Regions from separate parts of the Homo sapiens genome. Here regions 1 and 2 are each linked to region 3. Evidence: fine-mapped expression QTL. A gene starts in region 3. Each other region holds a variant in brackets. All regions are shown on one strand. Distances are from middle to middle. Region 1 overlaps MICU2 (mitochondrial calcium uptake 2). Region 2 overlaps ZDHHC20 (zDHHC palmitoyltransferase 20). Region 3 holds the start of ZDHHC20 (zDHHC palmitoyltransferase 20).

Region 1 (8,000 bases), 81 kb after region 3:
GAGTCTGGACTGTGAATGCAGCAATGAAGCTGTACAGGTACTTCTTTTCAGAAGCACGGTATGCTTCTAAGGTTTTGAAATGGGGTTGTCTTTTCAGTTTTTGAAGATTAATCTCTTATCTCTCAATTTTTTTTTCCTTAAGATGATTTAAATTTTCTCTCTTCAGTTTTTATTTTACTCATTTTTCTTGAAAACACTTTTTAATAGAATTTCTAAAATCACATTATATTTATGTAGAGTTTTACACAAAAGCTGAATTAATCTACTCTGGCTCTCATATTCTGCCTTTAGATCAAAATTATTATAGAACCCTCCCCAGCCTTCCTTACTTCAGGAAAAAAACATCAAATAATCATAAGATAACTCAGTTTATATCCACAGAGATTATCTGAGTTTTCACAACTGGTAAATATCTTTCTTAAGAGTCTCAAAATGCTTCCAGAAAAGTCTATATTATGGAAAGGTACCTCAAAGCCATAGCTCTGATCTAAATATTGGTACTTGAAATTTAAACATCTTGCTTAAAATCTACTTTAAAATGCCAAATTAGTAATTTCCTAAAGTAAAACCTTACAAAATATTTATTAACTATGATTTTAAAAATACCATTTATTTACAAACTCATTAAGAGGCTAAGGCTCAGTTAATATTAAATCTTACAAAAAAATATAGCAATATTACCAATTATAAACTTAAAATGTACCAGACACACAGCAAGAAAACTAAAACCAACTTGCCCAAGGTTACACAGCTAATAGAGCTAGGAATCTAAACCAGGCTTAAAACCCATGTTCTTAATATTTTTTAAGGCTACATACCAGATACTATAAATGTTTAAAATATCTTATTTTATTAAATTCTTTCAACAATCCCATAAGGAAGGCATTACTATCTTATTTTAAAAGGTGATGAAAGTGAGGATGAAAGAGATTAAGTAATTTCCCCGGGTCATAAAACTAGGAAAAATTTGAATTTAAGTCTGTCAACTTCAAAACACACACTTTTGTTCACTAACCATATACTACATTCCAGTAAATTCCCACTATAAAAAATTTAGGAGCTTGTTAACCTCAAAGTCTATAGGGATGTTCTGGTGCTATGACTGGAAGGAATTGGTAAAGGGTGGGGTGAAGTGGGTATAAAGATAAGTAGACAGTTTAGTATAAGGAACTAATACTCACAGAATATAATGAAAGTCCACTAAATATTGATACAGAATGTACAGAAATAGATATTTATCAATAAACAATAACTGATTAATATTGATTTTATGGAGTTATTATACCTTTGTCATATTTTTCTTCTCCATGGAGTGTTATATGATAAACTTATTCTCAATTTAAAACTAAATTTTTTTTTTTTTGAGACACGGTCTTGCTCTGTTGCCCAGGTGACCACACACAGCTCACTGCAATTGCAACCTCAACCTCTCGAGCTCAAGCGATCCTGTCACCTCACCCTCCCAAGTAGCTGGGACTACAGGTGTGCATCACCACGCCTGGCTAATTTTTCTTTTACATTATTTGTAGAGATAGAGACTTGCTATACTGCCCAGACTGGTCTTGAACTCCTGGGCTCAAGCTATCCTCTTGCTTCAGCCTCCCAAAGTGCTGGGATTACAAGCGTGAGCTAATGCACTCAGCCATAAAATTAATGTTGATTTGAGAATGTTGTAAATCTCTTGAGATAACTGTAAAAGCTCTGCTGCATTCAATGAAAGGTTATAAACCACTGATTTAGAAATTACATTTGTTTCTTAATTCTCCAATTCCTTCTTTAGACAACAGGAAACAATAATTAATTTATCACCAATCTCAGGTGAACACTTTTTCTACACTTATAAAATAAGAGTGGTCCATCTCTCAGATCCTTGATAAGGTTCACTAAATTAACTATGCCAACTTCTATTTTAGCTGTCTATTTCTACGGTCACTCCCTGAACCCTGAAATCACCTGCAAGTGCTTCAGCTTAGAAACTGTAAATTCAGACACCTACTCTATGACCATGGTTGTTTTCTGCTCTTGGACATCCACTACATCTGTTTTCAACCTCACTGGCAGCTTTCTCTCTAGGCTTTTTTCTATTCCTGGAGTTTATCATGAAAAGGGGATTTTTTTCCCTCTTGACTTTCCTACTTTCTTTTTAAATTTTTCTTCCTATTTTACTTTATTCTCTATTGTCTCTGCTTAAACTCCATGGCTCATTAGTTAAAACCTCTCTTGCTCCTAACACTGTTAACTCCCTAGGCCGTGACTTCCTCCATTCTTCTGCCTAGCAAATCCTAACTGTCCAACTATTCTAATCTACAACTACACTGATCAATGACTCATTCTTTCATAATCTATGTTCTCTTCTAGTCCTTGAAGGATTCCCAGAAGTCTGTTTCTCTCATCAGTTCTTTTTCCATATCCCAGAAGCTACTTCAAACCTTCTTTCTCCATAAAGCTCAGACCTACTATATCCAACATTTTCTTTCTTTCTTTTTTTTTTTTTTTTTGAGACAGAGTTTCACTCTTGTTGCCCAGGCTGGAGTGTAATGGCATGATCTCGGCTCACTGCAACCTCTGCCTCCCAGGTTCAAGCGATTCTACTGCCTCAGCCTCCTGAGTAGCTGGGATTACAGGCACCCGCCACCATGCCTGGCTAATTTTTTGTGTTTTTAGTAGAGACAGGGTTTCCCCATGTTGGCCAGGCTGGTCTCAAACTCTGTACCTCAGGTGATCGGGCTGCCTCGGCCTCAATGGCCTCCCAAAGTGCTGGGATTACAGGCGTGAGCCACCGCACCTCACCCTAAATCCTATTTTATAAAGAAAATCAAGGCTACTCCAAAACACCTCCCTCATTTGCTTGCCAGTAATTTGCAAATATCTGCATAAAATGCTCATTTGTTCACCCTTTTCTCCTGATACAGTGGGAAAGACATCCTCCCTGTGGAATGCTGATCCTTCCACTCCTGTTCTGAAGACAATCCCTTCTTTCCTATTTTCCAGGATTTTGTCCTATTCATACTTCCTTTGTATTGTCCACCTCTCCTTCTCATCAACAAGAAACATGCTCACCACCTAAAATAAACCAATATTCTCTTGGCCTTTTTTCTCTACCCTTAGCTACTACCCTCTAACTCCTCTGTTCATGACCATGTCTCTCAAGAGGTCTGCGTTTACTTTTCTCATATCCGCCCTCACGTCTCAGTGCTCTGCAACTTGGCTTTAGATCTCATCCTATCACTGATCTGTACAGTTGGCCCTCCGCATCCATGCATTCAACCAACCGTGTATCAAAAATATTAAAAAAAAAAGGTCTGGTGTGGTGGCTCATGCCTGTAATCCCATTACTTTCAATGGCCAAGTCAGGAGGACTGCTTGAGCCCAGGAGTTTGAGTCCAGCCTGAGCAATGTAGTGAGACTCCCGTCTATACTAAAATTAAAAAAAATTAGCCATGTATGGTGGTGCACACCTGTAGTCCCAGCAGGCTGCAGCAGGAGGACTGCTTGAGTCCCAGAGTTTGACGCTGCCGGGAGCTATGACTGCGCCACTGCACTCCAACCCAGCAACAGAGCAAGACCCTGTCT[C/CAAA]AAAAAAAAAAAAAAAAAACCCCAAACAACCCACACCAATACAAATAAATAGAGTTACAGAATATAACAACTATATACATAGCATTTACATTGTATTAGGTATTATAAGTAATCTAGAGATGATTTGAACTAAATGGGAGGATGTTTGTAGGTTATACGCAAATATGATGCCATTTTATATCAGGATCTTGAGCATTCTTGGATTTTGGTATCCAAGGGGGGTCCTGGAATCAATACCCCATAGATAACAAGGCACCACTGTACTTGTTAAAATGTCAAACACTTCCAGCTGCTAAATATAGAGGATACTTCTCAGTCCTTAGCTCACTCAACTCCCTACATTTACTTGGTTTTGACATTTGATAAGTTCCCTTTTTCTTTAACACTTTCTCTGCTTGGCTTCTGTGATAACACTCTCCTGGCATTCCTCTACCTCTCTGATTACTCTGCCATGACCTCTTTCCGTCCACTCCCCTAAGTGGTGTGGCTCCTCTGGATGCCCTTGAAGGCTTCTCATCTTTTATTTTAGATACTCTGCCTCATACCCTCATCCATTAAAACATTGATGTTTTAATAATTTATCTGTAATTGCTCAAAGACTTTGAAAAAGTTACCTCCTTACTTCATGTTTTAAAAACACCTATTAAATAACATGGTACAAATCTCATACCTTAATTCCTTAATAATACTTCAGTTAAATAAAACACATAACTAGAAATTTAACAACAAACCAAAATTACCTTTATCGCCAAGGTCTCTGAAAAAAGTTGATCCACAGCCAGCTGTTTGGATCCCTGACAGTGTATCCTCGATGTCCTTTGAATACACATATTAAAATTAAACTTCTAAAAGTTCATTTTCTTTGTAGCTGGGACTACAGACGCCCACCTCCATAGCCGGCTAATTTCTTTTTGTATTTTTAGTAGACACAGGGCTTCACTGTGTTAGCCAGGATGGTGATCTCCTGACCTCGTGATCCGCCCACCTTGGCCTCCCAAAGTGCTGGGATTACAGGTGTGAGCCACCGTGCCCGGCCAAAAGTTCATTTTCTATCTTACCAAAAACAAACCCTGCCCCCCACAACATGATGCTTACCTTTTTTGTCAGCTTCTTGACTGAAGTTTTACCTACAACAAATAAGAAACATTATTTAGTATCCATATTCTTTGGTAAAACTCAACTTGCACTAAGAAAGAAAATTATTTAAAAGACAAAACAAACAACTAAATATTTATTTAAAAAGCAAAGGCTTGTAATTTTAGCTAATATCCTTAAGCCATAATCATGAGTCAGAGAATTCTAAGACTAAACACAAAGACACTACAGTTTTTCACAAGATCCATTTTCAATTTCACTCACCCTATTTCATACATATGAAATTGTATATAACCATCTATGATTTATCCTAGTTGTATGAATCATATTATTAATTCTTGTCAAACATAATTTCTTCACATGATTATTAAAATCACTCTCTTTTTACTTTCATTGATTTAGAAAAAAACACTCATGATTTATAAAGCTTCCTTTTTTTGAACTCTGGAAAGTCCTCTTAGGCTTATAACTCTCCAGTCAAATGTAAAAGTCTAGCCAACATAACCATCCATTCTAAAGTAGTTATTTTTAATAATTTCCTACTGGATAACAGAGATTTAAAATTCTTTCAGGTTTTCAGCCACCCTCTTTACTGCCTACATCATTTTCCTAATATCCACCATAATTCTAAAGCTATTACATTGTTTCTTTTTTTTAGGACTTACTCTGATGATAGCCTCAAATCATTTTAAACATCCAGAACAAAACTGAAAAATGTTTTATTTTGTTTCTTACATAAGCAATATACAGCACTAACTTTACTTATTGCTCTCAAAATTATCTTGTCTATGAAGTTCCTTCAGCACAATTACGCAGTCTGTAGAAATTCAGGTGGCACATTAAAAAAGAGTGCTTTTAGATGTGGCTTTTCTGTAGTTTGGGTTGTTTAATTTGGACGATAAATCTACAAGGGCAAATTCTATTATTTGGTATTAGTAAACTGTCAGGATTTTATTTTTACATTATTAGTCAAAACATTACTTGTGAATATGACTACATACTTTTTAGAAACATCTATGACTATGTTTGTAAGCTTAGGTGTTGTTATTTTGGGATAATTTTTACTCACTGGAGAAACTATTATGTGCCAGCCAAAGACAAAGAGCCCCAGATTCTACTGTTAGGTGTTGTTATAGTATCAGATAATCAAATAGATAAAAATTACCATTTATTGGACAAATCTAAGTGAGTGAATGTGTATATAATACGTAGTCATATAATGCTGATAATGAACTCCAAAAAACTGTGTAATACATGTATTTACTTATCTTTACATAGTCAATTAACTTAAAAAAGAAACTGATCATTATTTCTATGCTTGTCCTAAAGTTACGCCACAAATAGTCATTACCATGTACCCTTTTATTTTTAGACAACTAAAATTAGTCTTATCTGTTTTTAAAAAGCGGATTAATCCTTACATCCAACTTAAAGTAGTCTAGAAAGCAATGATTGACATTTTGAAGGCAGAAGAGGATCAAGAATTTAAGGTAGCAAAATGGATGGTGTCTAAGAGTTTCTTAGAAATCAGATTATTTCTAAGGGGTGTTATCTGTTTGAAGGCTAGATTCCTTTTTGGTCTTTCAAAAATCTGTTAAAAAAAAAAATCCTTCTACTTGAAACTGAGTGAGTAAAGAAGGTAATGTTTGCTTCCCTCCAGCTAGAAGTCTGGCTGCCAAACAGGTAAGCCAATAAAATTCAATACTATGTGAATGAAATACCACAATAAAGTCATGAATTGATTGAATAATATAACACCAGAATTACAGGTAAAAAGTAAATTATAAAATCTATGGAGGCAGATTTCATACCTGTCTTACTTTTATGTAGGTCAGTGCTAAACATTTAAATATTTGTTGAATGAGTAACTGAATAAACAAATCAGAAAAGATTTCACAATGTCTTCTTATCCAGGTCCCTGTCTTTTGGATAAATTATTATATCCCCACTTTACATGTAAAACAAATTGGCAAGAGGAATTAGGTAACAATATGGGCCTTGAAGGATTTATTTTCATATCTCATATAGATTTTTCAAAAACAGGTGTTAGACTCTTTGAATTCCATGACAGTAGTAAAAAGAGCCTGCGGCCTACTTTCAACACTTAACAAAACTGAATAATTATGCATGGTACGATTATAGAGGCAGTTTTGCTGCTTTTCATTATTTAATGTAGATTACAAGTTCTATTTGACATGTATATAAAAATTTGATCATCAAAAAGGAGAAAACCAGATACTTAATGCAGTTTAAGTTGTAAAAACATCTTTTTAAATTTTTTTAATTCAAATGGAATAAATAATTAGAAAATAATGAAGAAATTAACTTTTTGATTAAAAGTTTAGAAGCTAGTCTCTTACATAAAATTCATTTTTAGATTAAAAAAAAAAGACAAGGCAAAGATACTAGGAATGAACACCCGTTCTCTCCTGCTTCCTCTTTCTCTTCAGTTAATGCACCTCTCCCTGAGTATTATGAGAGGTTGTGGTGTTTCTAATCCAGAACACTCTGGCAGGGTTTTCTTGGTAGACAGTTGTCTCACCCAGGATGCTTACTCTATACTACTTGTTCATGGCTGAGCAGCAAAATAAGAGGTCCATGGTCTGACCTGCACAGCAGGAGCCATGACCTTTTTTCTCCCTACAGCAGTAACAAGGCAAGAGCATATTAAATACACCTAAGTATTTCTGGACAATATTTTTCTATTTAAGGATAAAACCCATCTGGCAAATAATCTAATTTTTCCTTCTGTTTTTGTTTGAGTTTGTTTTTTTCAATGTAGGGTAGGGGGACACTCCTGTCTCTCTTTCTTTGGCTATTTCCACATTCACACAAATAAAAAATTCAGTCTCATTATTTTCACAGCTATTTGATATGTATTCACACACTTATGTATGAAAATAACAGAATGGGGCAAAAAACAGGAAAAAAGATCTAGAATTGAGGTTGTAATGTTTCATTGTATGAATATGAAAACAAGAAAAACACATTAGGGGTTTTTGTTTTTGTAGGAGGCGGCATAGATCTTGAAGCACTAGGAATTTTGGTTCAGGAAGTAAAATGTTTTAAAAGGATTCCACCCATATTAGAGATTCCACCATGTGGTTTTCACTATTTACAGAGGATTTATGAAGTAAAATCCAGATACAGCATATCCTGTTATAGGTAAGTGAGCCTTTTAATACTTAAAATAGTAAAGCTGCATTGATACACATTAAGTGTTCTTATAGATCCAATAAATCTGCCCCTGGCCAAAATAAAGTTATTTGATAATCATAATTACAAAAACAACACCAGCACTACATAACTTAATTTCATTTTGTAGAGGTTAC
Region 2 (10,925 bases), 85 kb before region 3:
ATGTGTCTGGCACTGTTTTAGTCACTAGGAATGTAATGGTAAATGAGACAGTGTTAGCTGGGCGCAGTGGCTCACACCTGTAATCCCAGCACTTTGGTAGGCCAAGGCAGGCAGATCGCTTAAGCCCGGGAGTTCAAGGCCAGTGAGGGCAACATGGTGGAACCCCTTCTCTACAAAAAATACAAAAAATTATCTGGGCCTGATGGTGTGCACCTGTGGCCCCAGCTACTCAGGAGGCTGAGGTGGGAGGATTGCTTGAGCCTAGGAGGTGGAGGCTGCAGTGAGCTGTGATTGTGCTGCTGCACTCCAGCATGGGTGACAGAGTGAGACTCTGTCTCAAAAAAGAGTGTGTACACAGCCAGAGCCATATAAAATACAGGCACAGATCACTCTGCACCTGTCATCTAAAAAGACACATCTGGCTGGGCGCAGGGGCTCACCAGCACTTTGGGAGGCCCAGGTGGGCTGATCACCTGAGGTCAGGAGTTTGAGACCAGGCTGGCTAACATGGTGAGACCCTGTCTCTATTAAAAATACAAAAAATTAGCCGGGCATGGTGGTGCATGCCTGTAATCCCAGCTACACGGGAGGCTGATGCAGAAGAATTGCTTGAATCCGGTAGGTGAAGGTCTCAGTGAGCCAAGATTGCGCCACTGCACTCCAGCCTGGGCAACAGAGTGAGACTCCATCTCAAACGAAAAAAAGAAAGAGAAAAAAAAAAAGACACATCTGTAGAAACCTACCCTAGTGCTGCCTCTCCCTCCCACTCACAAACCCAGGAATAAGTACTGAATGAACAATCCCACCTACAAAATAGTATTTCATTTGTTAAAATAATTAGAGATATTTATAACATGTATTATTCTACTAGCTGTACTTTATCATGTGTCATCACCTCCGAACACCCAGAAGCCTAAGGTGTTTCAAAACAAGGGACTTAATTTCATCCACTAGCAACACAGCTGTGTTAAGTGGAACTACAGTATAATCTGGAGTGTTTTCTAAAAACAAATAGAACCATTCCTTTTATGCTTTTCTGATTTCTCCAGTAAAGCGTTCATTAATGAGTTACAGCTCAAAGAGATGGCTTAAGAACATCAGTTGGCCTGGTGCAGTGGCTCACGCCTGTAATCCCAGCACTTTGGGAGGCCGAGGCAGGCGGATCATGAGGTCAGGAGATCAAGACCATCCTGGTTAACATGGTGAAACCCCGTCTCTACTAAAAATACAAAAAAAAAAATTAGCCAGGTGCTGTGGTGACGGGTACCTGTAGTCCCAGCTACTCAGGAGGCTGAGGCAGGAGAATGGCATGAACCTGGGAGGCGGAGCTTGCAGTGAGCCGAGATCACGCCACTGCACTCCAGCCTGGGTGAAAGAGCGAGACTCCGTCTCAAAAAAAAAAAAAAAAAAAAAACCATCAGTTGGAGAGAGTCCTTCCTCCTTTACAAATGCTGCCAAAGGACATTGGGTTTTGAATTTAACAACCCAAAAATGTGTCAAAAATGTCACTTTTTGTGGGGGAGGAGCAGGGCTTCCTGTTTGCTACTATAGAGACTGGTGTGGAATGCATGGAGCTGCTAACATAGGGGTTGCTTAACTATGGCCTGTGGGCCAACTCCAGTTCACCATCTCATTTTTAAAAATTTGTCACAAACATCTTCACTTCAAAATACCTAGTACTAGATATTAAAATATGGACTTAATATATCCACTCTACACACAGCTGTTTGTAGAATGAAGTGCACATTGGGGATAATGGCTATAATCCGAATATGGACATTTTGGTTCAGAACACTTCCCAATGGGCAAAGTACAGATATGTTATACTACAGAGGTAGATTACAAATTTCATTTCTAGAAGCAATGTTTGGGGCTGGGCATGGTGGCTCACACCTGTAATCCCCACACTTTGGAAGGCCAAGGTATGAAGATTGAGCTCAGGAGTTCAAGACCAGCCTGGGCAACAAAGTGAGACCCCTGTTTCTACAGAAAAAAAATGAGCTGGGCATGGTGATGCCCATCTGTGGTCCTAGCTACACAGGAAGGTGTAGTGGGAGGATTGCTTGAGCCCAGGAGGTTGAGGCTGCAGTGAGCTATGTTTGTGCCACTGCACTCCAGCCTGGGCACCAGACTGAGACCCCTCTCAAAAAAATAAAAAATAAAAGCAATGTTTATTGGGTAAACATGGACATAAAGATGGCAACAGTAGACAGTAGGTCTATCAAGTACTATGCTCACTACCTGGGCAATGGGATCAACTGTACCCCAAACCTCAGGACCAACACAATGTACCTATGTAACAAATCTGCACGTTCCCCTTCAATCTAAATGTTGAAGGTTGGGCGTGGTGGCTCACGCCTGTAATCCTAACACTTTGGGGAGGCTAAGGTGGGCAGATCACTTGAGCCCAGGAGTTCGAGACCAGCCTGGGCAATATGGTGAAATTCCGTCTCCACCAGAAAAATACAAAAATTAGCCAGTCTCATCACCTGTTCTCAAATAAATATGTTGACATTATTTAAAAATTTTTAAAAAAGCAATGTTTAAAAGATTTTCTTCTGGCTGTGTGCAGTGGCTCATGCCTATAATCCCAACACTTTGAGGGGCCAAGGCAGGTGGATCACCTGAGGTCAGGAGTTTGAGACCAGCCTGGCCAACATGGCAAAACCCTGGCTCTAGTAAAATACAAAAATTAGCCAGGTGTGGTGGCAGATGCCTGTAGTTTCAGCTACTCGGGAGACAGGAGAATCACTTGAACCTGGGATGCAGAGGTTGCTATGAGCTGAGATCACACCATTGCACTCCAGCCTAGGTGACAAGACCAAAACTCTGTCTCAAAAAACAAACAAACAAAAAAGACTTTCCTCTGAATTTAACCAACAGTATCCTAAAATATATTTGCTAACTCGATATTTGTCATGAAATTAGAACATATACTTTTATATACCCTATGTATACAGCAACATTAAATGTGTCATATGAAATTAGAATATATACTTCTAATAAATAAACGTGCATAATTCCCTTCTCCCTATCCTCCAACCACTCAGAGAAGAGCATAGATTAATGTAATTTTCAGTGGTTTAACATCCTCCCATCCAAGTACTAACCAGGCACGACCCTACTTAGTTTCCAAGATCAGATGACATCAGGCATGTTTAGGGCGGTACAGCTGTAGGTGGTTTAGCACTTTCTATTAGGGAGACAATCTTTCTAAAGCAATGCTCTATATCCACGGGTTCTGCATCTGCAGATTCAGCCAACCATGGCTCAAAAATATTCAGGGAACCCTTCACCCAAATAACAATGCAATAAAAAATACAAATAAAAAGTCGGGTGCGGTGGCTCATGCCTGTAATCCCAGCACTTTGGGAGGCTGAGGCGGGCGGATCACCTGAGGTTTGGAGTTCGAGACCAGCCTGACCAACATGGAGAAACGCTGTCTCTACTGAAAAAAAAAAAAAAAAAAAAAAAAAAAAAAAAAAAAAAACCAAAATTAGCCGGGCATAGTGGGACGTTTGTAATCCCAGCTACTTGGAAAGCTGAGGCAGAATTGCTTGAACCTGGGAGGCAGAGGTTGCGGTGAGCCAAGATTATGCCATTGCACTCCAGCCTGGGCAACAAGAGCAAAACTCTGTCTCAAAAATAATAATTATAATTATAATAATAAAAAATATAACTCCTATATGTATTAATAGCATTTACACTATATTAGGTATTATAAGTAATCTAGAGGTGATTTAAAGTATATGGGAGGATACGCATAGATTACATGCAAATACTAGACCATTTTATTTACTTACAGGATCTTGCTCTCTTACCCAGGGTGGAGTGCAGTGACTCCATCACTGCTCACTGCAGCCTCAGCCTCCCGGGCTCAATTCATCCTCCCATCTCAGCCTTCCGAATGGTTGGGACTACAGGCGTCCACCACCACGCCTGGCTAATTTTTTTGTTTTGTAGAGGCAGGGTTTCACCATGTTGCCCAGGCTGATCTTGAACTCCTGAGCTCAAGTGATTCACCTGTCTCGGCCTCCCAAAGTGTTGGGGTTACAGGCGTGAGCCACTGTGCCTGATACTAGGCCATTTTATATCAGGGACTTGAGCATCTGTGGATTTTGGTATCTGTGGGAGGTCCTAGACCAATCCCCACGGATATCAAAATCCGAGGATGCTCAAGCAGACCTCAGTATCCCCATGGATACCAAGAGATGACTGTATTGAAAATATTTTTCAATATTTTCAATATTTTTCAAACACTACTCCACATCTATTTTTAATATGTGGTGAGCACATCTAAACACGTAGAAAAGCTAGATACAGGCATTTGAATGAAGGACCTAAGTTTAACATTGTATCCACAGGAGTGCTGAGTGAAGTTTATCATTGTATCCACAGGAGTGCTGAGTAATAGCACGCCTGTGGATCAATGCTTCTAAATGCACATTCTGGCGGGAACCTTTCCCCTCCTTCACTGCCTTTTGCCCTTCCTTCAACCCATGAAACGAACGAGGGCATGAGTCCAAGAAATGCTGTAAAAATTGCATTCCCGTAAGTGATTTCCAGAAGGCAATGTTCCTTTCCAGTGAATCTTAACAAAAGGGTTGGAAAACAAGTTTTTCTCATTTTACTTTTAGCATCGTTGACAACCTCTCCACATCTAGAGAGGCTCTACATGTTGCAAATAATTCACATTTATTTTAGAAGGTTGCGGTAAAAACTTAACAGCAGCTGGTCCACATTATATGCACAGGATCATAGTTGGTAAATCTT[CTAAA/C]TAGAGGGTTGTCACTTCCGGTGGCTGAATGAGACAAACCATAAGCCATCATTTCTCACTCCCTCTATCAATTAACACCCAGAGGGGTGTTGTACCTGTATGCCTGTACCCCACACAGGACCACTGCCTGGAAAGGCAGGATGCCTGTGGCTCTATTTCCACTACTCACCCATTCCCTGGAGTAGGCGCTCAATTAATAGGCTGAGTTTAACACACAGGTACACAGCATGGATACTGTAAAACTCTTAAGTGGGATCACATTATATGCAGATTGCAGATTTCAGCAATTTGACTTTTTTTTTTTTTTTGGAGACAAGAGTCTTGCTCTGTCACCCAGGCCGGAGTACAGTGGCACGATCTCGGGTCACTGCAACCTGTGCCTCCTGGGTTCAAGTGATTCTCCTGCCTCAGCCTCCCAAGTAGCTGGGATTACAGGCACCCACCACCACACCCGGCTAATTTTTATATTTTTAGTAGAGACAGGGTTTCACCATGTTGGCCAGGCTGGTCTCGAACTCCTGACGTCAAGTGATCCACCCACCTCGGCCTCCCAAAGTGCTGAAATTACAGGCATGAGCCACCGTGCCCGGCCTGCAATTTGATATTTTTACCCGTCTTCAAGATCTTTCCTTTCTGGTGGAGATACTTCAATTTTTATAAATATAGCTACAGGAAATCTTTAAATGGCTTTAATAACAAACTTGGCCTCTTTGGAAGGGCACTGGAACACAGATGCCATAAAATAATTCTACATAATAAAATCTATTAATTATTCAGCATTTTAACAATCACAATTCAACAACTTACAGTGATCTGAAGGTTCTCAAGATCCTAAATGACTTCTGAAATTAAATTATGTTCAGTAAAAAGCTAAGTTAAACTCTTTAGGTTTTGAATAAACCTAAGTAAACAACAATTTTGTTGCACTAAAATAATACCTATCTTAAAAGTGGTTTCCCCAAACTATTAGCCAATCTCTTTCTCTAACCAAGCACTATTTTACCAGATTTTCAAGTTGATAAACATAAGTTACTCTCTCATTTGGTAAATACCACTTTATAACAAAGAAAACACTTCAAATACAAGACTTTGTTTATTAATAAAGTAATTCATTATGACTTTTGAAAAAAAAAGTTTTAAAATGTTCTGTGTACATGTCAATGTAGGTTAGGCCAGCCAAAAGACAAAGCAAAGCATCAACATTAAGTCACAGGCTAGGATTATACAAATAAGAACAAACACAAGGCTTATGGTACTTGTTAGGTAAACACAACCAAACTAAACTGTACTTCAAATTTGTTTATATAAAAGCATATTAAAGCTCACTTTAAAATAGTGTCCATCTTTTCTTTTAAACGGGCATAGACTCATTTGCAGTCATGTACAAATATACCTAATAGCTTTCTTCATCTTTTAATACAAGTACAATTCCTTGCTTCTTTATGCAACCTAACAAAATAATATAGAATGAAGTCATTAGAAAAATATGAACCTTTCTGAATCTATATTACATTTTTAATTTAAATTGGAAAATACAGTTTAGATCATATGAAACATATGGATTTCAGACATGTATTATCTGTTTCTAACAGATTATTACAGGCGGTCTTTATTTTGGCTGAAATGCAAAAATATGACTTTCTTAATAACAGATTAGTTAAAAATACTTTCCATTGATAGCAGTGCTAGTCCCTAGAACAAAAGGTAAGCAAAACTTATTTGTAAGTTACTGCCTATTCAATGCCCAGAATATGTAGATCCTAAATCTAAGCCCTTAATATACATCTACTTTAAAGATAACTGAAAGATCTCACATGCCTGATAATCCTTAATTTAAACCGTCCTGTAAACATAGTCAAAATCTGCTAATAGAAATACAATTCAAGTAAACATTGCATATTTGATTTAAACCACCTTACAGTTAAATTCACTCATGACACATTGGATCATAACCACTAATATGTAAAAAGTTTTAAAAAAATCATCCTTACGTATAGATGAAAATAAACTTTGTAAACTTGTTCATTTAAAATAACGAATGTACTGCAGCTGCTCTTTGGTTTGGCATAGTTTCAGGTACTGAATATTCAAGTAAATTTGTTCCCAGGTAAACCAAGTCTCCTAATTTGTCTGTAATGGCAATGGCAAGACCTGAACTTCAACTTTATTTTTCTTAAGGTGTCATCACAAAGTGTTTGAAGGACCAAAGATAGTACTTCTAAAATTTGACAGGGCTTCATTTTGATTTTTTCTCCCCAAATAGTTGATAGCAATAATCAATACCAGTTGAGATACCAAAGAGGCAGCCTTTCCCTGATTCCCACACCACTTGTAGGCCTTTGCTAGAATGGTCATTAATACGTATGAATCAGTTGAGCTAAATATTATTTAGAACGTGGCAAAATGCTGGCTGTAAATTAAATCAAAGATAAGTAATTCAAAGGCTTTAACTGAAAATTTCTGAAAAGATGTTTGCTGTGCTATTAAAGATGTTAAATAACAAAAATTAAAAGAACTGAGAAAGACTATACCATGAAAGTGCATAATAGTGAAGAAAAAAATGAAGTTCCCTTGGCGTTAGCCAGGTGCATGCAAATCTTTTTATCTGAATGTAGAAATGCAAAAAGTACCAGGAGAACATTTCTGAAAGTAGTCAAGTATGTTTTAACATTTATCTCCTTATAATATGCAAACTGCCAAACTGGAGTTATGTTTTTAGTTGGTAATTGATATATATATATATTTTTGAGATGGAGTTTCACTCGTCGCCCAGGCTGGAGTGCAGTGGCACGATCTCGGCTCACTGCGACCTCCACCTCCTGGGTTCAAGTGATTCTCCTGCCTCCACCTCCCGAGTAGTTGGGACTACAGGCGTGTGCCACCATGCCTGGACAGTTTTGGGGTTTTTTTGTATTTTTAGTGGAGACAGGGTTTTGCCATTTTGACCAGGCTAATCTCGAACCCCTGACCTCAGGTGATCCGCCAGCCTTGGCCTCCCAAAGTGCTGGGATTACAGGCATGAGCCACCACACCCAGCAATAATTGGTATCTCTTAAATCTCATTCTAGTTTGCTAGAATCAAGATTACTAAGGAGTTGAAACAAAGGTAGAAGAATCCATACTATAATATCCCAAATTATGTTTTCAAAGCTAACTCATTCCTTTGGTTCAAAAAGAAAAAAAGTTGCCTCCTTTTAAAATCCAATATTAGTATGGCTGATGGAAATTAGGCCAAATTATAAACAAATTATAAACCTACAGTAGCAACCATAAAATTTATGCTGTACTAGGAAATGACAGAGCTATTCCTAGTTTATTATTTAGCATACAGAAGGTACTCCAAAAAATTTACCGGGGCGGGGCGTGGTGGCTCACGCCTGTAATCCCAGCACTTTGGGAAGCTGAGGTGGGTGGATTATTTGAGGTCAGGAGTTAGTGATCAGCCTGGTCAACATGGTGAAACCTCGTCTCTTCTAAAAATGTGAAAATTAGCCGGGCATGGTGGCATGAGCCTGTAATCCCAGCTACTTGGGAGGCTGAGGCAGGAGACTCTATTGAACCTGGAAGGCAGAGGTTGCAGCGAGCCAAGATCCCGCCACTGCACTCCTGCCTGGGAGACAGAGCAAAACTCTGTGGAAAAAAGAAGAAAAAAATTTATTGGGTGAATGAAAAGTGATTTTGCAAAATTAGGCATCACAGAATGTTAGAAGTCATCCAGTCCAACTTATTCACAACACCCCCTCCCCTGCAGTCCCATTTTACAGACAGGAAGCTCCAACCTGTAGTACTCACAGATGCTGCTGAGATTCATCTCCACCCACTCACTGGAAGCAATCAATTATTTTGGGGGGGGTGTGTGTGTGTGTGTGTCTGTCTGTCTAAAAGGTGTAAATGAGGAGTGACATTTCTACATTGTTTATTCTGTACTTTTCCTTGGAGTTAATGCAACACCTCCTGTCGCTTAGATTTTAAAAGGAAAAAGGAGAAATGTGTCTAGTCATAAAGGGGTTGCCGTTAGGAAGTCAGACTTCAGACTGTGCGTCTAAGAGTAGAATCCACTTCTCAAGAGACTGGGAATGTAAAATGACCACTCAGGTTAGAATTTCCAACTGACAGCCAGGAGGAAAACTTACTCTAAAGTTTTTTTTGCCTAGTTTAAATTGCATTTTAAATCACTGTTTAAGCTATTACAGTATTACTGTAAAAAGTTTCAAAGTAATTTTTAGTCATTACCTACACTGAAATTTGAAAGTGAAGTCAACAGCATGCTTTATTCTAACTGCTGTTAAAACTCAAAACTATTTTTTTTAACAAATTACAATATTCCTCTTAGATTTTCTTCTGGACACCTATACTTCTTCCTACTGTGTCCAGTATTCTCCAGCACATGTACCTTTGTGTTTCTCTGCCCATGTACATACCCCTGAAAGTTCAACAAAAAAAGCTATAAAATAGCAGAGAGAACCCAAAATATTTCTTATACTGCCAAGTTCCCTTTAAACCTTGGGCACTTGCTCTACTACATGGTTGTATTAATGCTCATAACTAAGCTTTCGATGAATTAGACCAATGTGTTCTATGTTCTAAATGATATTTAGATATCTGAATCCTTCTGTTATAGCCAACAATAAAAAAAGTTATTAAAAATGTTGAAAAGTATAAAATAGTAATTATAAATTAGCAAATACCCAATTTAAAAAAGCAGTTTTCCTTATACAGTACAAGCAACAGTAATTTGAATATTATTCACTTTCAGCCACCATTTGCCCTAGATGTACTTTAAAGTTTTTAAGCTTGTGTTTTTGGAGTGAAAATGTATATGGATACTTATTCTAATAATGTAATTCAGGTATCAAAAAATACATATGCATGTTAAAATGTGATGACAGCTCATATTATAGCAACTCATAACAGGTAAGTATTATTTCCAGAATAACATTAAGTCACTTTTGTAGCTCTAAGTCAATGCTGCACAAATGGACACTTAAGATTAAGGCATCATTCTGCTCTGGAGTAGTGCTTCTGTGAATCCCAGGAACTGTACAAAGGCTTTCCGTTTTAAAAAATATATCTTCTGTTATACTTCAGTTATTTCATTCCACTGATCATTTTCTTGCAAATGAAAATTGAAAATACCAGTCTATAATGTTTTCATACACCTACAAAAAAAGAAACAAATTATTGGTTAAAACTTGATTTTTTATTTCTGAAAATATTTACTAAATGGTTCTGTGGGCTAAGGTACAAAGCTACTAATATAACAAGATGGAAAATGAATTCCTTAACACTACTAATATTATAACAATAAAGATTTTTGTAGCAGTAAATGAGTGGGTATTACTGTCTTCCCCAGAAGCAATCAAAAGAGTATTTTAAAAGGAAGAATCTTACAGTACTCCCAGACTGCTAACTTGGACATCATCTGAGAAGACATCTGGTCCACCTACACCTGTCCTAAGATTGGCGCAAGATGTAGAAAACTTCCCACAGCAACTGTTAAAGGAACTGCAGCTGAGGATTCTCAACCACCACAAGCATCAGCAATTATTTCTGCCCACATTAAGAAGAAATGTGGACCTCAGACTGAGGGCTTTTCTGGGGACCAAGTACTACTCCACAGCTCCAGCTCTTGGTGGCATGGACCTGGCTTACAATCACCGTATGCGGGACACAGCTCCTCTTCTGACTGCAGCGCACTCGGCCCGACGTGACCTCCACCCCTAGTGCCTGCGATCTGACTGCCCGACATGACCTCCACCCCTAGTGCCTGCGATCTGACTCTGCCCGACGTGACCTCCACCCCTAGTGCCTGCGATCTGACTCTGCCCGACGTGACCTCCACCCCTAGTGCCTGCGATCTGACTCTGCCCGACGTGACCTCCACCCCTAGTGCCTGTGATCTGACTCTGCCCGACGTGACCTCCACCCCTAGTGCCTGTGATCTGACTCTGCCCGACGTGACCTCCACCCCTAGTGCCTGCGATCTGACTCTGCCCGACGTGACCTCCACCCCTAGTGCCTGCGATCTGACTCTGCCCGACATGACCTCCACCCCTAGTGCCTGCGATCTGACTGCCCGACGTGACCTCCACCCCTAGTGCCTGTGATCTGACTCTGCCCGACGTGACCTCCACCCCTAGTGCCTGTG
Region 3 (10,503 bases):
TCAAAAAACGGATTGTTGTGATGACTGCAAAACTTGGCAAATTTACTAAAAATAACTGCATTGTACATCTTAAATTAGTGAATTTTATGACATGCAAACTATGTCTCGATCAAGTTGTCTTTAAAAACTAAAGGCAAAATTAAAACTTTTACAAACATACAAAAACTGAAATGATTCAGTCCAGCTGACTTGCACTACAATAAACGTTAAAAGAGGCCCTTCAGGCAGAAGGAAATGACACTAGATGGATTTACAAAAAGGAATGAAGAGAACTAGAAATGGTAACTATAGGAATAAATACATATATTTTGGGTTTTTTAAACCTAAATCTTTAAAAACTATTAATATAATCAACTGTTTAAACATAGTAGCAATACAGTGTGAGGTTTACAACATATAAAATGCACCATAATAGCATAAAGGCCAAGATGGAAGAGATAGAAGTATACTTTTATAAGGTATTATATATGAAACAGTACGTAACTTGAAGGTAGACTGTGATAACTCAAAGACACATGTTATAAGCCCTAAAGCAATCAATAAAGTAACAAAAAGAATTACTAGTAATATGCCAATAAGGAGATAGAATCATTTTTAAAAATCAAAATTAAAAAAATTGTAAAGATCAATTAATTCAAAAGAAGGTCAAAGAAGGAGAAAATGGAACAAAGAAGAGGACAGACAATAAAACAAAAGAGCAAATGATAGACTTAAGCCTATATCAATAATCACATTAAATGTAGATGGTCAAAACCCCCTATTAAAAGGCAGAGATTTTCAGGTTGGATTTTAAAAGACCCAAATATATGCTCTTTACGAGAATTACAATTTAAATATAAGACACATACACATTAAAAGGACAGAGAAAGATACATCATGCTCACAATAATTAAAAGAAAGATTAGTGCCCATGTTAATATCTGCCAAAGCAGATTTCAGAGTAAACAATATCACCAGGGGTAATAAAGTCACTTCATAATGTTAAGTGAGCCAACTGGTCAATAGGATATTGCAATCCTAAATGTTTTATGCACCTAATTACACAGATGTAAAATACGAGGCAAAAACTGATAGAACTACAAGGAGAAATAAATCACAATTATAGTTATACCTCTCTTAATAACTGAGAGAACAAACAGGAAAGCAAGAAAATAGAGGACTTGAATAACACTACCAACTTGCCTTAACTGACATTTATGGAGCATTATGACATAACAGAATACTCCACCCAGCAACAAACAGCACAATACATTGCTGAGTACAGACATATTTTTCGTAAGCACACATGGAACACAGCTCAGACAGACCACATTCTGGGCTATAAAACAAGCCTGAATACATTTTAAAGGATTTAAGTCATACAAAGTATGTTCTCTGACCACAAGGAAATTTGAAATCAATAACAGAAAGATATCTGGAAAACCCCCAAATAAATGGAAACTAAATCCATGGGGTCAAAGATCAAACCAAAAGTGAAATTAGAAAATAATTTGAATTTTGAAGGGTGGAAGCTGCAGTGAGCCGAGATTGCGCCATTGCACTCCAGCCTGGGCAACAGAGCAAAACTGTCTTAAAACAAAACAAAATAAAAGGATTTGTTTGTTCTTTGGGAAAGGGTCTTGCTCTGTAACCCAGGCTGGAGTGCAATGGCACAATCATGGCTCAACGCAGCCTTGAACTCCTGGGCTCATGGTATTCTCCCGTCTCAGCCTCCTGAGTAGGCTGGACTTCAGACACAAGCCACCATGCCCATCTAATTTTTTGTATTTTTTGTAGAGATGGAGTTTTGGCAGGCATGGTGGCTCACACCCGTAATCCCAGCACTTTGGGAGGCCGAGGTGGGTGGATCGCTTGAGGTCAGGAGTTGAAGACCACCCTGGCCAACATGGCAAAACCCCATCTCTACTAAAAATACAAAAATTAGCCGGGCGTGGTGGCACATGCCTATAATCCCAGCTACTCAAGAGGCTGAGGCAGGAGAATTGCTTGAACCCAGGAGGAGGAGGTTGCAGTGAGCCAAGATCGCCACATTGCACTGAAGCTTGGGCAACAAAATGAGACTCCATCTCAAAACAAAAACAAAAACAAAAACAAACAAACAAAAAGATGAGGTTTCATCAAGCCTCCCAAAGTGCTGGTAGTACAGAGGTGAGCCACTGTGCCCAGCCCAAGAAAATAATTTGAATTGAATGACAACCACAACACAACATATCAAAATTGATAGAATAAAACTAAAGCAGTATTTGGAGGTAAATTTATAGGACTACCTACCTAAGAAAGGGCTCAAATCAATGACCTTGGTTTCCACATTAATCTAGAAAAAGAGCATATTAAACCCAAAGTAAAAGAAAGGAAATAGTAAAGATCAGACAGGAAAACAACAAAACAGAAAAGAGAAAAATCAATGAAATAGAAAACTGGTTCTTTCAATATCAATAAAATACTTCAGAATCAACAGTGTCAAGCTAGCATGTACAATGATAGTGCTTAAGTTATTTATCTTAATCTGCCTCTAAATTTGAAGAAGTTATGCAGGAGACACAAGTAAATATTTAATACAGACTCAAAGGTTAGAGTCCACTCCACAAATTTGTCTGAAAAAAATATAAAAGGTATACCTGTCCTTGAACAAACAACATAGCTCTTTTGTTTGTTTGTTTGTTGGTTTGTTGGTTCGTTTTTGAGACAGAGTCTCGCTCTGTCGCCCAGGCTGGAGTGCAGGGGTGCAATCTCTGCTCACTGCAAGCTCCGCCTCCCAGGTTCATGCCATTCTCCTGCCTCAGCCTCCCGAGTAGCTGGGACTACAGGCACCCGCCACCACACTCGGCTAATTTTTTGTATTTTTAGAGAGATGGGGTTTCACCGTGTTAGCCAGGATGGTTTCGATCTCCTGACCTCGTGATCCGCCTGCCTTGGCCTCCCAAAGCGCTGGGATTACAGGTGTGAGCCACCACGCCTGGCCAACATAGCTCTTTTGAGCAATAGTTTCATCAGAAGTAAAGGGACTGAATGAGATTATCTTTAAAATCTCTTTAAGTTCTAAGATTCTCTACATGCCAAAGAAGAGGTACACATCCACTAACAAGATGACCTGAACAACAAGATATTCTGATAAAACCTTGGGAACCAGAATTAGCACTTGCCTCAAAAATAACCACCTTGACCAAAGAGAAGAAGTTATTCAATCCATTCGTACTTTAAATATCAACCCTGGGGAAAAAAAATCATACGAGAATTTCAGTCTAATTTAAAATCAAGGACCAATATTACTAATTACTTAATCTTCGCTTCTCAGCTTATCACTCCTGTGAGATGGCCGTTTTACATGCATTACCCTCTTCCTCAATTTTGTCCTCAGTATTACTCCCAGTGAAGTGGTGTGTGTGTGTGTGTGTGTGTGTGTGTGTGTGTGTGTGTCTAATTACACAATTAGCAAGTTACAGAGGGTAAGATGGAATGAGGGCCTCTTGGTAATCAACAATTTGTTCAACTTACAGCCAACTGTGGGCCAGGTATTTTTATTGTCTGAGATATTTAGGAATCTTCTGCAGCTGCCTTTTAGGAGAAAAGTACTTTATATAAATATATCATATACAGGACTGAAATCTGCCCTGAGTGTCCAGATCTGGACACCAAATAGATTAGTCATTAATTGTATAGTGGTTAACAGCATGGGCTTTGGAGCCAAACCCCTTGAATTCCAATTCTTACCATGCTACTTACTGGCTCTATAACCGTGGACAAATTACTTAACCTTATGGGGATCATTATTAAGATTAAATGAATTAATACATACATGTAAAGATATAATTATGATCTTCTCCTCCTAGTTTGATAAAGAATACCAGAATCTAAGAATATCCTATAGGCCGGGCACAATGCCTCATGCCTGTAATCCCAGCACTTTGGGAGGCCAAGGTGGGTGGATTGCCTGAGGTCAGGAGTTTGAGACCAGCCTGACCAACAAGGTGAAACCCCCGTCTCTACTAAAAATACAAAAAAAATTAGCTGGGCATGGTGGCGGGCACCTGTAATCCCAGCTACTTGGGAGGCTGAGGCAGGAGAGTCACTTGAACCCAGGAGGCAGAGGTTGCAGTGAGCCAAGATCGCATCATTGCACTCCAGCCTGGGCAACAAGAGTGAAACTCTGGCTCAAAAAATACATATATAAATAAAAAGAATATCCTATAAAAGTATTAAAACAGCACTTTTAAGTAAAACTCACACTTCCCTCCATTTAAGTCCTCCTATAAAGTAATATATCTATACATATTTCAGTGGGAGGGTCAGTACTTATGAAAACAAATACATACAAGTAGTTTAAAGGATAGTTTTAATATGAGTAAATGCACTTTTATGCTCAACTATTTTATACTCCAGTGACACTGCAGACCTCCCAAATTCTCTCTAGTTAAAATGAGATAACTCAGAAGTTAATACAGCCTCTACATAAGACCTTTCACCACCAAATATTTTAAGATTCTGCCAAGCATCAGGCCATAGTTATAGAATGTTTTAACTTAATGAAATTGTAGGGTATAATCTCTACAGAATGGGCCTCAAGCCTAACTAAGTGATCTCCAAAAATATGCCAACCCCTTTATCCCCCCACACCATTATGGACCAAACAATTACAGTTCCATTGACCCTCATAGCTTACTGAAGTTATATGAAAGAACGGAAAGATGTGGGTCACATTCCAATAATCAATTGTGTGACCTAACCAAAAGGACCTATTCGCTCAGTCTCACGTCCTCCACCTGTAGAGATACCTATGCTGTGACATACTGAAAGAATTAAAGGAGAGGGTGAATGAAATGTCCCCTCTATGCCCACTAGCACATGGCACTTCTCAATTCATGTTCATTTCTCCTTCTTTATTTGAAGTGGTGAAAGAAATCAGAAGCAATTTAAGACTTTTCACAGCACTGTTTGATCTCATTTCTTAATATTTTTGACAAAAACCATCTACAGGTTAAGCTGTGGAATCTCAACATAAATGCACATTTTTAGTGTTCCTTCAGCTTTACTTCAAAACCACTACGGGAATTAAAATACGGTAGGAATAATCTTCTGACAGAATAGGAATGACATAACTTTTAGAATAAATGCCCACTTCAGAGTAAATAAGAAGATAAAGGAGGTATCATCATAAGTTGATGAGAATCCTATGATCACTACCACTTTCTGGAAGTAGCTCCCAGAAATATTAAAATCTAGTAATTTTAATTGACTCAAACATCATTTTTAGTAAACATTCTGGTATCCAAAAGCATGAGACTAAACAATGATATTGAAAAGATTAATATTATTTGGAAATGTATTCCACAACTAATTTATTCTGGGCCTACCTGCAGGGATAGTCGTCCCAAAATTAAACGTTCTATAGGTACAAAGTAATTTTAAAACTGGATGTTTTAATTTCAAAACTTATAAATTTTCTGAGCCAAAGCATTCTCTTCCATGTATAGAACTAGGGTTTTAACCAAATACTTGGTTGAAAGCTGTACAAATCCAAACATAATTGAAGTCTTGATTCTGCCACTTTCAAGAGTGGGTGGTACAGATTCTTCTCATTCATAACATTAGTTTCTAGCTGATGTGGTTCGTTATTCAAAGAACACTTAACAGTCCTTCATAAAATGGTAGATTCAGTCTAAGGACTAAGAGTAGAACATTCTGGAATAACAATAACGTTTACAAACACCACTTACCATTTGGTCCTAGGTTTTCATAAAAAATTGATATAGGCAGCAGATGTATACAGAACACCCTAGTTGAGGCCAGTTTAAGTGTAAAATACCCACATACTCAAAGCCTAAGAACAATTTACTTAAGACAAAACAATGTTGGAGAAATTGCCCAATATCACAAATGTAGCAGTCACCCCTAAACAGTGTTTTTGATTAATGACAACCAATTTCCTTCAATCTTAAAGGCAACCAATTCAAGCCAGTAGGTTAAATCCTTGAAGTATACTGCAATGCTACTCCTTTTTTCCAGGGAATCAGATGAGAATTTTGTGCTAAGAACTTATCAGGAAAATGGAAGTAACGAAAATTAACACGCCAAAATATGAGTATAAGAAATATAAGCCTCCTTAATAATCAGCCAAGAAAAAAATAATCAGGTTATGTCTCCTCCCACCCATTCTTTCTGTCTTAACCTTCTGCAAAAGCCGGCTGGATTCAGAGTAGAAATAAACGAATTTTACAATGAGTCGAGTACCACCAAAAATCAAAAGTGGGAGCTTACTCGTCCTCCAGGTCTGACCCGCCTCCAGCCCGAGGCCACCAAAAGACACACCTCCCTTCCCCCAACCCGCCACAGCCGGCTCTACAGGTAACAGGCGTTTCTTCTCGCGCAGTTTGAACAAAAACAATCCAGAAGGAACAGATTTGGTTTTTTAAAAAAAATGAACAAAAGCCAAAAAAGCCACAAACACAACCTAAACCTTCTAAGAAGCTCGACTACTCCCGTTCTGCACGTTCCTTCCCAGAAGGATGCAGACCCCCGGTGTCGGCGGGAACCAGGAAGCTCTTGGGGCCTCCCTGGGCCAGACCTGCACCCGGGAAGCCGCCGCAAGGCTTCAGGAGCCCCAGGTCGCCCCAAGGCCGCGCCGCAGGATTGAACAAAGCGGCGGGTGCAGCAACCTCGGCGCTTCCGAGCGCGTTCGGGGCCGGACGCCCGGCGTCCGGCGCTGGCTCCAGAAAGGCGGCGGGTGTGGGGCGCAGAGGCCTATCTCGCGCCCTAGCCGCGGCCCGCGCCCCGCCGCAGTCCCCGGGGACGGTACTCACACACGCAGAGCTCCACCACGTACGCGTAGTAGGACCAGACGACCACGAAGGTGATGAAGAGCACCGGCACCCAGCCCACGACGCGCTGGCAGCAGCGCCACAGCGTCCAGGGCGCCATGTTCCGCTGGCGGCTGCCGAGCCCCGCGTCCCACCGTTCTGGGGAGCGCGGGAGCCCCGGCGACGGTGACTCGGACGCTCCAGGCGGCTGCTGGTCCAGCTCCCCCGCCTCCGAGGCAGGACTTGTGGGAGCAAAAGTCCGAGGCGCCGCCGGGACTCCTCCCGTCCCGGCGCCCAGCCAGGCCCCGCCCCCACCCCACATCCCGTCGCCCCCCTCCCCCCGCGTCCGTCCCCGCCAGCCCGCCCGCCGCGGGCCGCGGGCCGCCCCCGGTCTCCGCGTCGTTGGGGCGGGGTTTCCGCGGCCGGGGAGGCGGTGAGGGGGCGGGGCCGCAGCTCGGGACCGCCCATGGGGCGTGGCGGGGCTGGATGCGGACAGGCTGGGCGGACGCGGGAGGCCGGGGAAGGAGAGGCGAAAAACACGCCCTTGATGGATGAGAGGGACAGGGGATAGCTTTTGTGGATCGAGACTCAATAGGGGAGGGAGACTATGGAAATGATTCCTTAGCTGATTTGTGGATCTTGGCCCTCTCTGTGTACAGAACTCGCTCCACTGGGGTTCCTGGGACATTGAGTAGTTGGGGCACTGTTTCAAACATGACAAGGCCATTCCCCACTCAGTGTGCGAAGAATGCACATTGTTAGAAGGCTCCTCCTGTGATTTTTATGTTCGTCCATCTTGGCGGAACCCCTCCCTTTCTTGAAGATGGAACGGTAGATACCTGTAATTTCGGGTAGAAGCCATGTAGGGTCCATCAGTTTGATTCGTAACCCAAATTTAAGATTGAGTAGCGAGAAGGAAAGGGCATGTAAATGACCCTCTCCTTGCCCCGCAAACGACTAAGGAAATTTAAAGAATTTATTTACAACTAGAGGTTGCTAAGCAATGACGATAATCATATAGAACCCAGAAGCATCACTGTGAAGACTTCACAATGCAAGGTCAGACGCATTAGAAGGGATTCCAGACCGCAATCTTCATACCAGTTCCTGCTACTAGCATTCAGTTTTGGTTAGAATGAATTTTTGTGTTTGTTTTTTGAAACAGGGTCTTCTCGCTCTGTCGCCCAAGCTGGAGTGCAGTGGCACGACCTGGGCTCATTTAAGCCTCGACCTCCCTGCTAAAGCACTCCTCCTGCTTCAGCCTGCAGAGTAGCAGGGACTACAGGCCCGCCACCATGCCCAGCTGATGTTTGTATTTTCTGTAAAAACTAGGTTTCGCCCTGTTGCCATGCTGGCCCTGAACTCCAAGGCTCAAGGAATCCCAACCCCTCTCCGCCTCCACCTCCCAAAGAAGTGCTGAGATTACAGGTGTGAGCCACCACGACCGGCCTACACTGAGCTTTAAATTAGCTACTGCTCACTAAAGTCTCCATGAAGAAGACGTCACCCTTTGCTGTGTCAGAGAAATGTAGTAAAAGCGAGTAAGTATTTAATCACTGCACACTGCTGCTTGAGTAATAAAGCATGTATAAAAGATTCTGTTCTCCCTGATTTTGTGCCTTAAAAGTCATATTAGTTAGTGGCCTAGTTGACAGTAGGTTTAGGTTCAAGTTCAACTAGTTTTCCAGAGAGGCTGCTTAGGAGGGTTAGACCTCAACATAGAATTCGGATGGACATGGAAGAACATAAAGCCGTTTCTCCTCTATGTCATCTCTACGTACCAAAACCATGCTGCTAGAGCTCAGCACAAAGCCATGTCCTTTACAAGCTCCAGGGCTGCTAGAAATGATCTTTCACGACATTTTGTTTATAACCTAACTATAAAACTGTCACATTCGTTTCCTAGGGTGACTATAACAAAGTACCACAAAACTGGGGAATAATAGAAATTGGTTGTCTCACAGTTTAGGAGGGTAGGTGTCCCAAATCAAAGTGTTGGCAAGGATATTGGATATGGTTTGGATGTTTGTCCCCTCCAAATCCCATGTTGAAATGTGATCCCAGTGTTGGAGGTGGGACCTGGTGGGAGGTATTGGATCATTAGGGTGGATCCCTCATGAATGGTTTAGTGCCATCCCCTTGGATGAGGGGTTCTTTCTCTAGTAGTTCACATGAGATCTGGTTATTTAAAAGAGCCTGATCCTTCCCCCACTCTCTCTCTTGCCCCCTCTCTTGCCATGTGACATGCTGGCTCCCCTTTGCCTTCTGCCGAGAAGGCAGAAGTCTATCTCTGTGGTCCTGTGTCTTCAGAGATAAGGATGTTCCTTTGTCTGGGTAGAGGGAGGGCACCTCTTGAATAACAGTCTTAGGTCTGCCTTCAGGGGAAGGCCTGAGACGCTTTTGCTAGTGCTATGGCCTGCTTCAGGGGAGAAGAGCGAGAGGAAGGTGAGAGGGACCTTCCTGTTGCTGTTGTCTCCAATGTTGTCTCCAACTGATGATTGGAAGCTTCTTGAGGCCTCACCAGAAGCATATGCTGACCCCATACTTTCTGTACAGCCTGGAGAGCTGTGGGCCAATTAATCCACTTTTCTTTATAAATTACCCAGTCTCAGGTATTCCTTTATATCAGTGCAAGAATGACCTAACACAGCCATGTGCCCTCTGAAACTTGTAGGGGAGAATTCTTCTTTGCTTCTTCCTAGCCTTTGGTGGTGACCATTAGTCCATGGCATCCCTTGACCTGCAGTGGCAGTGGCATCACCCCAATATCTACCGCTATCCTCAGGTGGCATTCTCCTTTCCTGTCTCTCCCCTTATATTGGGTTAAGGGCCTACCCTACTCTAGTATGGCCTCATCTTAACTAATTACATCTACAACAGGCCCACTTCCAAATAAGGCCACATTCTTTTTTTTTTTTTTTTCAGTAGAGTCTTGCTCTGTCACCCAGGTTGGAGTGCGGTCACGTGATCTTGGCTCACTGCAACCTCCACCTCCCAGCTTCAAGTGATTCTCATGCCTCAGCCTCCCGAGTAGCTGGGATTACAGGCGTGCACCACCACGTGAGGCCTGCATTTTGTATTTTTGCTAGAGATGGGGTTTCCCCATGTTGGCCAGGCTGGTCTCAAACTTTTGGAGTCAAGTGATTTGCCTGCCTCGGCCTTCCAAAGTGCTGGGATTACAGGCCTAAGCCACCTCGCTCAGCCAATAGTTTTGATACTCATTGAAATATGTGATCTTGCCTACTACCTTGTAAGGTTCTAGAAGGTAGAAAGTATTTCTTGCACATCCACAGTGACTTGCAGTAGGAAATATTTAGTAAGAAATTGTTGAACAAATATTTAAAGTTTTCTATTGTTATCCAGTTACTCCTCCTAACTTCTGGCGTTGCCAACCAGATTACATTAGCTTGTGATTTCTTTTTTTTCTTTTTCTTTTTTTTTTTTTTGAGACAGAGTCTTGCTGTGTTGCCAGGCTGGAGTGCAGTGGTGCAATCTCAGCTCCCTGCAACCTCCGACTCCCTGGTTCAAGCGATTCTCCTGCCTCAGCCTCCCCAGTAGCTGGGATTACAGGCACACACAACCACGCCCAGCTAATTTTTTGTATTTTTTGTGAGCCACCGTGCCCGACCAGTTTCTGATTTCTAAATGACTGCCACATATTCTAAGGTGATTTATGTGGGATCTAGAGAATATTTCTGATCTATGTCCT

What was found.
Region 1: its variant is fine-mapped to the expression of ZDHHC20 in whole blood (INTERVAL, PIP 0.99).
Region 2: its variant is fine-mapped to the expression of ZDHHC20 in whole blood (TOPMed, PIP above 0.99).

What each region holds. Positions count from the first base shown.
Region 1 is chr13:21,534,989-21,542,988 of GRCh38, forward strand. It overlaps MICU2 (mitochondrial calcium uptake 2), which reads right to left. Exons shown (of 12, transcript NM_152726.3): 3 at 4,669-4,700; 4 at 4,314-4,389. Among named protein-coding and RNA genes, the nearest start is that of MICU2, 65 kb to the right of the region's middle. The variant C/CAAA (reference allele first, on the strand shown) is at 3,574.
Region 2 is chr13:21,366,720-21,377,644 of GRCh38, forward strand. It overlaps ZDHHC20 (zDHHC palmitoyltransferase 20), which reads right to left. Exons shown (of 13, transcript NM_001330059.2): 13 at 5,852-9,936. It overlaps LOC124903130 (nitric oxide synthase-like), which reads left to right and starts at 9,970. Exons shown (of 1, transcript XM_047430813.1): 1 at 9,970-10,925. The coding sequence starts at 10,525. The coding sequence ends at 10,875. It also overlaps the pseudogene MIPEPP3 and the pseudogene RNA5SP25. RefSeq lists an enhancer at 10,225-10,741. The variant CTAAA/C (reference allele first, on the strand shown) is at 4,774.
Region 3 is chr13:21,452,257-21,462,759 of GRCh38, forward strand. It overlaps ZDHHC20 (zDHHC palmitoyltransferase 20), which reads right to left and starts at 7,047. Exons shown (of 13, transcript NM_001330059.2): 1 at 6,798-7,047. The coding sequence starts at 6,915. It overlaps LOC124903131 (a long non-coding RNA gene), which reads left to right and starts at 7,291. Exons shown (of 2, transcript XR_007063713.1): 1 at 7,291-7,923; 2 at 8,127-8,390. RefSeq lists a silencer at 6,960-7,339, an enhancer at 7,203-7,372 and a cis regulatory region at 7,288.